Linked DNA regions of Homo sapiens: region 1 is linked to region 2. Evidence: fine-mapped expression QTL. A gene starts in region 2. The other region holds a variant in brackets. All regions are shown on one strand. Distances are between the middles of the regions.

Region 1 (4,397 bases), 860 kb after region 2:
GGGGTAATGGAAGCTGCATATGAATATAGTAACTAAAAAAAAAAATCAAAAACCTTGGAAGACAAATAAACATGGCAGAAGCAGCAAGACAATGTTTTTATGTTTTCACTTTTAATTGACTAAAAATATCAATACAACATATTCCTTGGACAGTCACCCCAACACCCCTCCCCTTTTTAATGGAAACTAGGAGGTGGTTGGGAGGAAGAACACTCAATTGATAAAACAACAGTTACCCCTGGGAAGTGCAAGTAGAGGACTGGAAAGGACTGTATTTTTTTAAAATACACATCCACATTGTTTGATTTTTGTTTTGAACCAGCCTGCACTACATTTTAAAATTAAGAATATACCTTTTTTAAAACTGGTGGGGGAGAAGGAAGAAAGAGTTACTTTCTACACAAGATAGCAACGTTGTTTTTAAGTAAGTTTTATTAACAAGTGACAATTACTTTTTTATGATACATTTAAGATAGTGAATTATGAATGACTGAAAATCCCCTCCAGCCTAACTGAGAACCATTATGTCTGGTAATTGCCACTGATTTCTGCAAACAGTCATTTTTCTCTGGCCTGTTAACATAATTTAAATTTTTAATTGCCCTTCATAATTGTCTATTGGAGTTAACAAACAGTCCCATTCACCTAAGGGTTTCCGACCAGGCCCTACCTCCAGGAACTCACACTGGAAACATCTAAGACCACTTGAGAATGCCATTAGGAGTTTGTGGATGGTCCAATTGAGGTGGCAGCCTCTGTGACAAATTGTGACATCTTTTTAAGGACCCATCCAACTATGGAATAATATATTTTTGGATTTCTGTATCAAGTTTGCTCACTTTTGCTTTGTAGCTACCTGACAAAAAAATAATAAATAGAGAAAAAATGTCACACTTGTAACCATGTTCACCAGGACTTTCATCACATTGCCTTATCTGTTGCACTGGGATAAGTGTGAACATTCTGGGAGAAGGACAGGTGCCAAGTGTTCATGTACTATAGGACTCACAGGTTAATTAAATCAGTGACATCAGAGAGGGGGGCAGAATTAACAGTAAAGATACATATTTATCTCAATATATGTGTGTATATACCCAACTCAGAAAAAAATGATCATAAAGTGCTTTAGTAGTTTTGTAGTTACATAAACTACAAACCGGCTATCTCAGCCGGTTCTTTGACTACTTTGCATACTTTGATCATGCTCGGTTTTCTGAGAGGAGGCACTGGAAAATCTGCTTTTTTCATATAGTTATATAAACTACTAGTAGTATATAAACTACTGTCATTTTCCTGAGTTGGGTAAATTCAAAAAAGTAGAAAGAAAAATGCAAAGAAAATTTCCTATAATTCCATTTATAGTATATATGTATGCCTAAGTACACACACACACACACACACACACACACACAGAGATATATCTGGATAGTGTTTTATAATATATTTCTCACATGATTTACTATTCTTGTAAAATTTTATTTGTAAGGACTACATGTGATTCAATATGTAGTTTCGCCATTGGTTATTTAAGCATTCCACCCCTGTTGGATATTAAATTTCTTGGTTTCTACCATTACAAAAAGCTGAAAGAGTGAGCCACCCTGCATATTTTGTATACATCACTGATAATTACCTCAAGAAAACATCCTACAAGGTGAGTGATTCAGGAGTATGAACCTACTGCTGAATCACCCTCCAAAAAGGTTGTAGATCAAAATACGCTCTCTCATCAGTATATGAGAGGGATGACTTCCCATATTTTTCCCAGCACTAGATGTTAACATTTATTAAAATGTTGGTTTCATTACTAGTCTAAAACATAGCATTCATTCATTTCTAAAGGTTACATTAATTTGACCAAAAGATGCTGACAAACATTTTTATGTATTAAGGAGAGCATAGGTATACATTGTGAATGGCATGTTCACCCCACCTCATCCACTTTCTATTAAGATATCCATATTCTTATTTGCACAGTTAAAACTTTAAATTCTCTGTGCTTTTTAAAAATCTCTTAAGATTGCTCTGACTCAA[G/A]ACTACCAAGTAGGTGTTCAGTGCCAAAGAACAATAGACTCCAACCACACAACTAGTTCCCATGCTACCTGAAAAAGGGCTTGGTTTTTTTTTTTTCTGCCACCTTCACGCTCTTACGCATTTGCAGTAGGTGCATCTTAGTGCATCTACTTAGCGCAGCATATGAAACCACAAACAAAACTGTCCCAGGGACCTTGAAGTCTGTCTTCCACTTCCCAGGGCCCCTTCATCCTCCTTTTGGTTCCCCTCAGAATGTCCAAGTGAATCCCTTTGTGCATCCCCACCTGGTTTAGTATTGAGGCAAATGGGAAATGCCCAGAAGAAATACCGACTTGAACCACTAGTGTGAAATACTAACTCACAGCAATTCACTCCACACAAGTTGGCAACTTCTGACATAAAGCAATGGCTGATAAGTATAATGACGAGGAATCTGATGCTTGGTGATACAACAGTAGCCACAGAAATGGTCGGCAGTGAATATCTGATTACCTGGCTCAAATCTATTTCCAATGTTGGGATCTCCAGGGTCCATTTAAGTATCTTCAAACAAATGTTCCAGCCGAGATATTTATGGGATTCTCTACAGGCAGCTGACTGGCTGCTGTGGGAGGAAGTCCAAAGCTGAGATATTTGTCCTAGCTTGAAAACTGTCAGTACTATTTGTATGAATGCGTTCAAAGTGGCCATGTTTCTTCATAACTTTTTGGACTAGTTCAACAGGGACATGAAAGAAGGACACTAAACTGATTCCTACATGGAAGCTTCCATTGCTTACTGTCTGCTTGGAACTCTGAGGGTGACATTTATTATAAAAATAGCAACAGTTAGTTATAATTGCTGACACATTCCATGCTTTCAAATTGAAACTAATAATCTCATTACTCTTATTTCCCTCACCTCCTCCTAAAAACTCATATGATAGCACATTTTTCTGTGATTCCTATCTCAGCCGATTCTTTGCCTACTTTGCATACTTTGATCAAGCTCGGTTTTCTGAGAGGAGGCACTGGAAAATCTGCTTTTTTCATCACCTATACAGGAAAAAAGAGGATTCTATAAGTCTAAAGCAAAATTATAGATCGGGGTTTCAACCGTGAACTTGGGTTTGTTCTTTTTAAAGCTTAAATAATGAATGAGGACTTCTTTGAGGAAGTGTGGCTTTCTTTGGGGAAATTTATAAGCACCTGATGGCTGAGACCGCAGGGCGTGGAGTCAGAAATTGGTTCAAATTCTGGGCTTGCTGCTTTCTAGTTTAGGGTGTTATTTTGAGTGAAATAGGAATAGGGAAATGGGTTGTTGTGAGAATCAAATGAAATGACACAGGTACACAAAGCACACTCAATGAGTGTTGATAAGTATTGTCATTGTTATGATTAAAACTTGACAAAAATCCTTTCGTTTAACACTCAGGACATCTGTGAGTCGGGTGTTTACTGGTTCCTCTGCTTCTCAATGACACCCACATTCCCAGTTGATTCTTACAGGCCCAGTCCTGCTTTTCATGAGAATAGAAAGGAAAAAATATGGGATGACTTAAGAGATGCCAGATGAATCTTTGCCCCGAAGGCAACTGTTTATTCAGCTCATTCAACGAACAAATAATTTCACTGATGATTTATTGTTTTCCTCAGTGAAATTTTCCTTCATACATCCATAATTAAAAAGGGTGCAGAACAGTAAATCGGTGAACCTGTCATATGACATTTGTTAGCATCGAAAACCAAGGCATCATAGCTTTTAGAAAAGAAAAAACGAAGAGGTTAGATAGGCCCTGATGTATGGATTTTTTTAACTGGCTGTCATTTCAGAAATGAAAAAGTGTGAGGTGTCTGTGTGTGTGTGTGTGTGTGTATGTATGTATGTGTTTAAAGAATGGAGACCAAAATGTAAAGTGAATGTAATGCCCTGTCTTCCAATATAATGACCTAATTTCTATTGATATTGAAAATATACCCCTTATTAGCAATGAGCACATGCAGTGTTTGCAGTTTCTCTAAGGAAGGAATACCAGTTTTTGCTTATTTGTTTTATTTTTTAGTGACAGAAAATTTTCCAATGTTAGGAAAAAAATTAAATTACCTATCTAATTCACAAGCTTTCCTCTCTTTTTTGAGATGGAATTTTGCTTTTTTTGTACAGGCTGGAGTGCAGTGGCACGGTCTTGGCTCACTGCAACCTCCGCCTCCCGGGTTCAAGCAATTCTCCTGCTTCAGCCTCCCAAGTAGCTGGGATTACAGGCATGCGCCACCACGCCCTGCTAAATTTTTTTGTATTTTTAGTAGAGACGGAGTTTCACCGTGTTAGCCAGGCTGGTCTCAAACTTCTGACTTCAGGTGATCCACCCGCCTCGGCCTCCCAAA
Region 2 (4,397 bases):
GTTAGAATATAAGCCCAAAGAGTATAGAGATAATGCCCTTGTCATCCCGTCACCACTAGGATAGCACCTTGAAGGAAGTAAATGCTCAGTAAATATCCTTGAATGAGTGAATGTTACAAAATCAATGAATTTCTTGAATGAAATCAAAAGTAACTGCCATGGCCTCATCCCATGGCTTTATTCAGAAGGCAATTAAGGGAGATGCAAATTCTAGTAAAAAACAGCATAGACCTTGCAATAGGACAAACAGTGTCTTCATTCAGGGCCTGTCCCTTGAGGGAAGTGACACCACATCTCAGTCTCAGCCTCCTCATATGTAGAAGGGGGGTAGGATAGTTTCTTTACAGAGTTCCTTTAAAGATTAAGATGGCACCTAATTAAAGGATGAACAAGAGTATGTAATCAAGAGATAAGTATTATTAATATTAGTACTATGAAGACATTGGCAAATTTCAGGCATGCAGTTTTTCAAGGTTTGTAGGTTATTGAAGACAACAAGCCAGGTACAGCTTGAAGGCCAGAGGATGTTATCACCCAAACACCCACCAGGCCTTTACCTTGCTGTACTTGCCTAGCGTTCATCCACACTCCTCATCCTGTCTCCAGTGACTGAGGGCCAGACTGCAGGGTTTAGATTCTTGATGTATTGGGTATGATATACTAGCAGTTGGTAACATTCTGGGGCCTCGGTTTCCTCCTAGGGTGGATCATACAGTGTCTGAACAGGTTAAAATCAGATAATTCATAGGCAACACATTCCACAGAGCCTGCACAGAGCTGAACAAGCAATACTTGTTCAGCTGTTACTATTAAAACCACCAGGCCCTGCTGGATTTTCTGTTAATTACCCTGTAAACTGAAACAGCCTTTCCTGGGCTAAGAATTGTTTCTTTTCAAAGATTCCCTATATGAAAAAAAGAGAAGTAACTCCTCTCTGACGTCTGGAAATCTAGCTTCCCCATCACTACGTCCTTGGGTGCAGGTTCAGAGCCACCGGGCAGCCTAGATGAGGCAGGTGAGCAGCGGCTGAAGACTCTGGAACCTTTGCTTCTCTCTGGAAGCTGCAGAGCTCGGCTCTGCCCTGCTCTGCGTTCCTAACCCTGGAAGAAGCGGTCTGGGTGCAGCCAAGCACTGGACATGCTCGCGAGAGCCAGGGCAGGCTCGGGTCGTCCGCAGGACTCGAAGGCTTGCTGTGCTCTCCTGTTTGCAGAGACCTGGGTGTAGCTGTGGTGCATAGATGTGGTGCATCGGGTGCCGAGCGGATCCCTCGGTGCGTGCAGCTAGGGATCCAAGCCTCCTCAGGCTAACCCTAGAGCCGAACTGAACTCTGAGCCGCCCGGGGTTCGCGCGCTCAGTTCCTGGTCTTGGAAACGCCCAGCTGGGGTTCTCTCTGCAGACAAAGGGGTGCACGTGTCCCTAGCGCCCCTCTTTCTCAGCCGTGAGCCCCTCCCTGGCTGCGTACCCCGCAGCCACAGCAGCTGCAGCCCCAGCGCCACCACCCAACCCCGGCGGCCTGGGCCGGTGCGCGCTCTCGGGGCCCAGGGATTGGCTCGCACTCCCCATTCAGGGACCGCGAGGGCTAGCGGGCGGCGCACGGCGCTCTGTGTGTGTGTGTGTGTGTGTGTGTGTGTGTGTGTGTTTGTGTGTGCGCGCGCGCGCGTGTGTTGTGCGGCGCGCGGGCGAGCGCGTGTGTGCGCGCGAGAGCTCGCGTGCAGGAGTCACTGGGTGTGCGTGCGTGTGTTATGGGTTTGATTCCAGAGCAGGTTGCACATTGGTCCTGGGTGGCTCGCAGGCTCAGGTCGTGCTTGGGCGTCCTCCTCCTAATCGTTTCCGAAGTAGCAGCAGCAGCACCACCACCAGCAGCAGCAGCAGCAGCAGCAGCAGCAGCAGCAGCAGCAGCCGCCGCGGCAACATCGAGCTCAGCGGCACAGCAGGCAGAACTGTGCAGAAGCGAGCACCGTTTGGGGAGTCCGGGGGGCGGGTAAGAGGGAGGAGGGGGAAAGCCTGTCTTGGTCTTTGGGATTATTTTTTTTCCCCTTCTTTCCCTCTCTCTCTCTTTCTTGAGGGTGTGTGTTGCCCCCTCGAAGTGAAGGAATTTTGCTCCAAAGCGAGCTGGGACCGAAGACTCTAGGCTAAGTTATCTATGTAGATGGTGTCAGGGAGCGAAGCTACTGACCGAGCTGCTGGTAAATGTTTTTCACTTCTTACTCTTTAATGCTTAAGGCTTTTTTCCCCTTTTCTTTCTTTCTTGTTTCCTTTCTGTTGCTCCTCATTCTGCAATCGCTCCTGAATCAGCTGCAGTTCTCTTTCTCTCCTTGCGTTTGTGCAGTTTACAACTTGTTTCATGGTTTTCTATGTATTTTTTTTTCCTCCTTCATCCTCAGATGAATGCTGGAACATTTAAATTCGGCACTTCGGGAGGTCATCATTAGTTGCATGAGTTTCAGGGGGGGAGGGGAAAGATTGCTAGAGCAGACTGTTATTTCCCTGCAGAAGGACTGCCGGTTTCTCTCTAATGTTCATCGCAATTATAGGGATTTTTTTTTAGGATGCATTTTAACGTTGCATTGCTGTTTAAGGTTATCGTTCTCCAGGATTACAATGCATTTGACTCAGTTTTGACAGCATGAGAGATGCCAGTGATTCCAGAACTACTGTATGGTACATGCTGGCTAAAATATTCAAAATTGCAGGAGGAATCATTTGCATTCCAAAAGAGAATTTCTTTAAAAATGCCGTTTTGCATCACATTGCTACAGATTTGCAGGAGGCAATAATAGACACCACTACCCATGTTGCTTGCAAAAGATAATAAACATATAAGTGCTTTAGTGCATCACATACTGTCTTGGGCTCCAGTGATTGAGCTATTGCTAAATTTACTTAATAATAAATTTAGGGCTATGGAGAAAGAGGGAGATTGCTGGTACTGTTTTATTCAAAATTGTGAGACACGTACAGCAATATCTCTCTTAGATCTTACTTGAAGTGGCATCTTGTCAATGGAGGGGAGGGTTCTGCATACACATGGAATAAAATTATTTAAAATAGCCAGCATAATGAATGCAAATTGAACTCTAACTCTTTTCTTAAAAATAGAACTCACTCTGTAACTCTGGCTGCCGGGATCTGTTTTAAATATTATTTAAAAATTAATATACAACAGCTCTTTAATGCATTCATATCATTTAAAGTTCTTTGGAGGGTTCTTGATCATTACCATGTTTTATTTGTTTTGCTTTTTTCCTCTTAAGTTTTCAGTTCCAGTTGAGTAGAAAAACTGAAGGGCCAGTGAGTAAAGGCAAATCAGCAATTTAGAAAGGAATCAGTGTATAGTTGTAAAATTTCTGCTAAGCCATGGAAAAATGAACTAATATAATGGCAGCTTAAATGGAGGAAGGGGGCCTCTGTGGTACAGCAGGTTGCAGTTTCTGTACATGTATCATCATCCTGAGAAACCCTGAACTCTAAACTGAGATGAGGACATCCAGTTCAGGGATACTCTGAGACACATACATTCTACAGAGGGAAAATGTTGTTATTCAAGGAACCCTCCTTCTGCTAGGTGGTTGCCACATCATAGAGCAGCAACTTGTCTATGTGCCAAGAATACGTTTGCAATAATACTCTTAAACTTTGTTTAAATGTAAACTTAACTAATGTTGGAAGAACTACATGAAAAAGTGAAGGCTCTTCAGCCCCAAAAAACAAAACAAACTGTAAATTAACTCAACTAGTCAGATCTTCTTTTATGTAGAAAAAAACCTACTCTAAGGCACCATGCAAATTCACCTGTTCTGGGTCCCCTGTGTTGACAAAAGCCTTTCTTAAAATTGTGAACAGAATTCCTAAGACCTAAAGCTTATTTCTTCCTTTGTAGTCTGCTGAAAGTAATAAGGCATTTTATTTAGAATGAAAGCTCAGCTTATTCATGGGTCCCTTGAGATGGCAATATTGCTGTTTTAAAATATTTTCATGGACCTTTGAATGGACTGTTTTGATCAAGTTAGTGGGGGGAAAATCCAGCTTGCATTCATTAAGACCACAGTTGTCTTTGAGTGAAGCATTTGTTTGTCTAGGTACTAAAGAAAAATGATTTCATATAGTAAACTTCAATCCTAAGAACCCAAGGTACCTAAAGCGTCAGGTTCCCTCCTTCTAGGACCCAAACCAAAAAGCAATATACCCCATGCTGGGCAGCTGTATTATTTCTCTGGCATATTCCACACACATGTGTAGGAAAAGATAACTGACCAGGCTAAGGGCTTATTTTGCTAGGCTCGTGGGGCAAGATTTCTAATTGTTATGTAACATATTCAGATCATGAATTTATTTATGAAACATCAAAATTAGCTTCAGTTTCAGTATCTTCACTAGACTCGAAGACTATGAGTACG

Alleles and levels. Positions count from the first base shown, and alleles are read on the strand shown. Sizes are in standard deviations (SD) of each study's normalised expression.
With allele A in place of G in region 1, the expression in lymphoblastoid cells of the gene that starts at base 1,692 in region 2 is higher (moderate effect, 0.46 SD a copy in GEUVADIS).

What was found. PIP is the estimated chance that this variant, and not a neighbour inherited with it, causes the effect.
Region 1: its variant is the best candidate, but not a certain one, in a credible set for the expression of TENM2 in lymphoblastoid cells (GEUVADIS, PIP 0.71).

What each region holds. Positions count from the first base shown.
Region 1 is chr5:167,835,687-167,840,083 of GRCh38, forward strand. All of the region lies in intron 4 of TENM2 (teneurin transmembrane protein 2), which reads left to right. Among named protein-coding and RNA genes, the nearest start is that of TENM2-AS3, 120 kb to the right of the region's middle. The variant G/A (reference allele first, on the strand shown) is at 2,035.
Region 2 is chr5:166,977,338-166,981,734 of GRCh38, forward strand. TENM2 (teneurin transmembrane protein 2) reads left to right here and starts at 1,692. Exons shown (of 31, transcript NM_001395460.1): 1 at 1,692-2,186. RefSeq lists enhancers at 749-1,250, 1,251-1,750.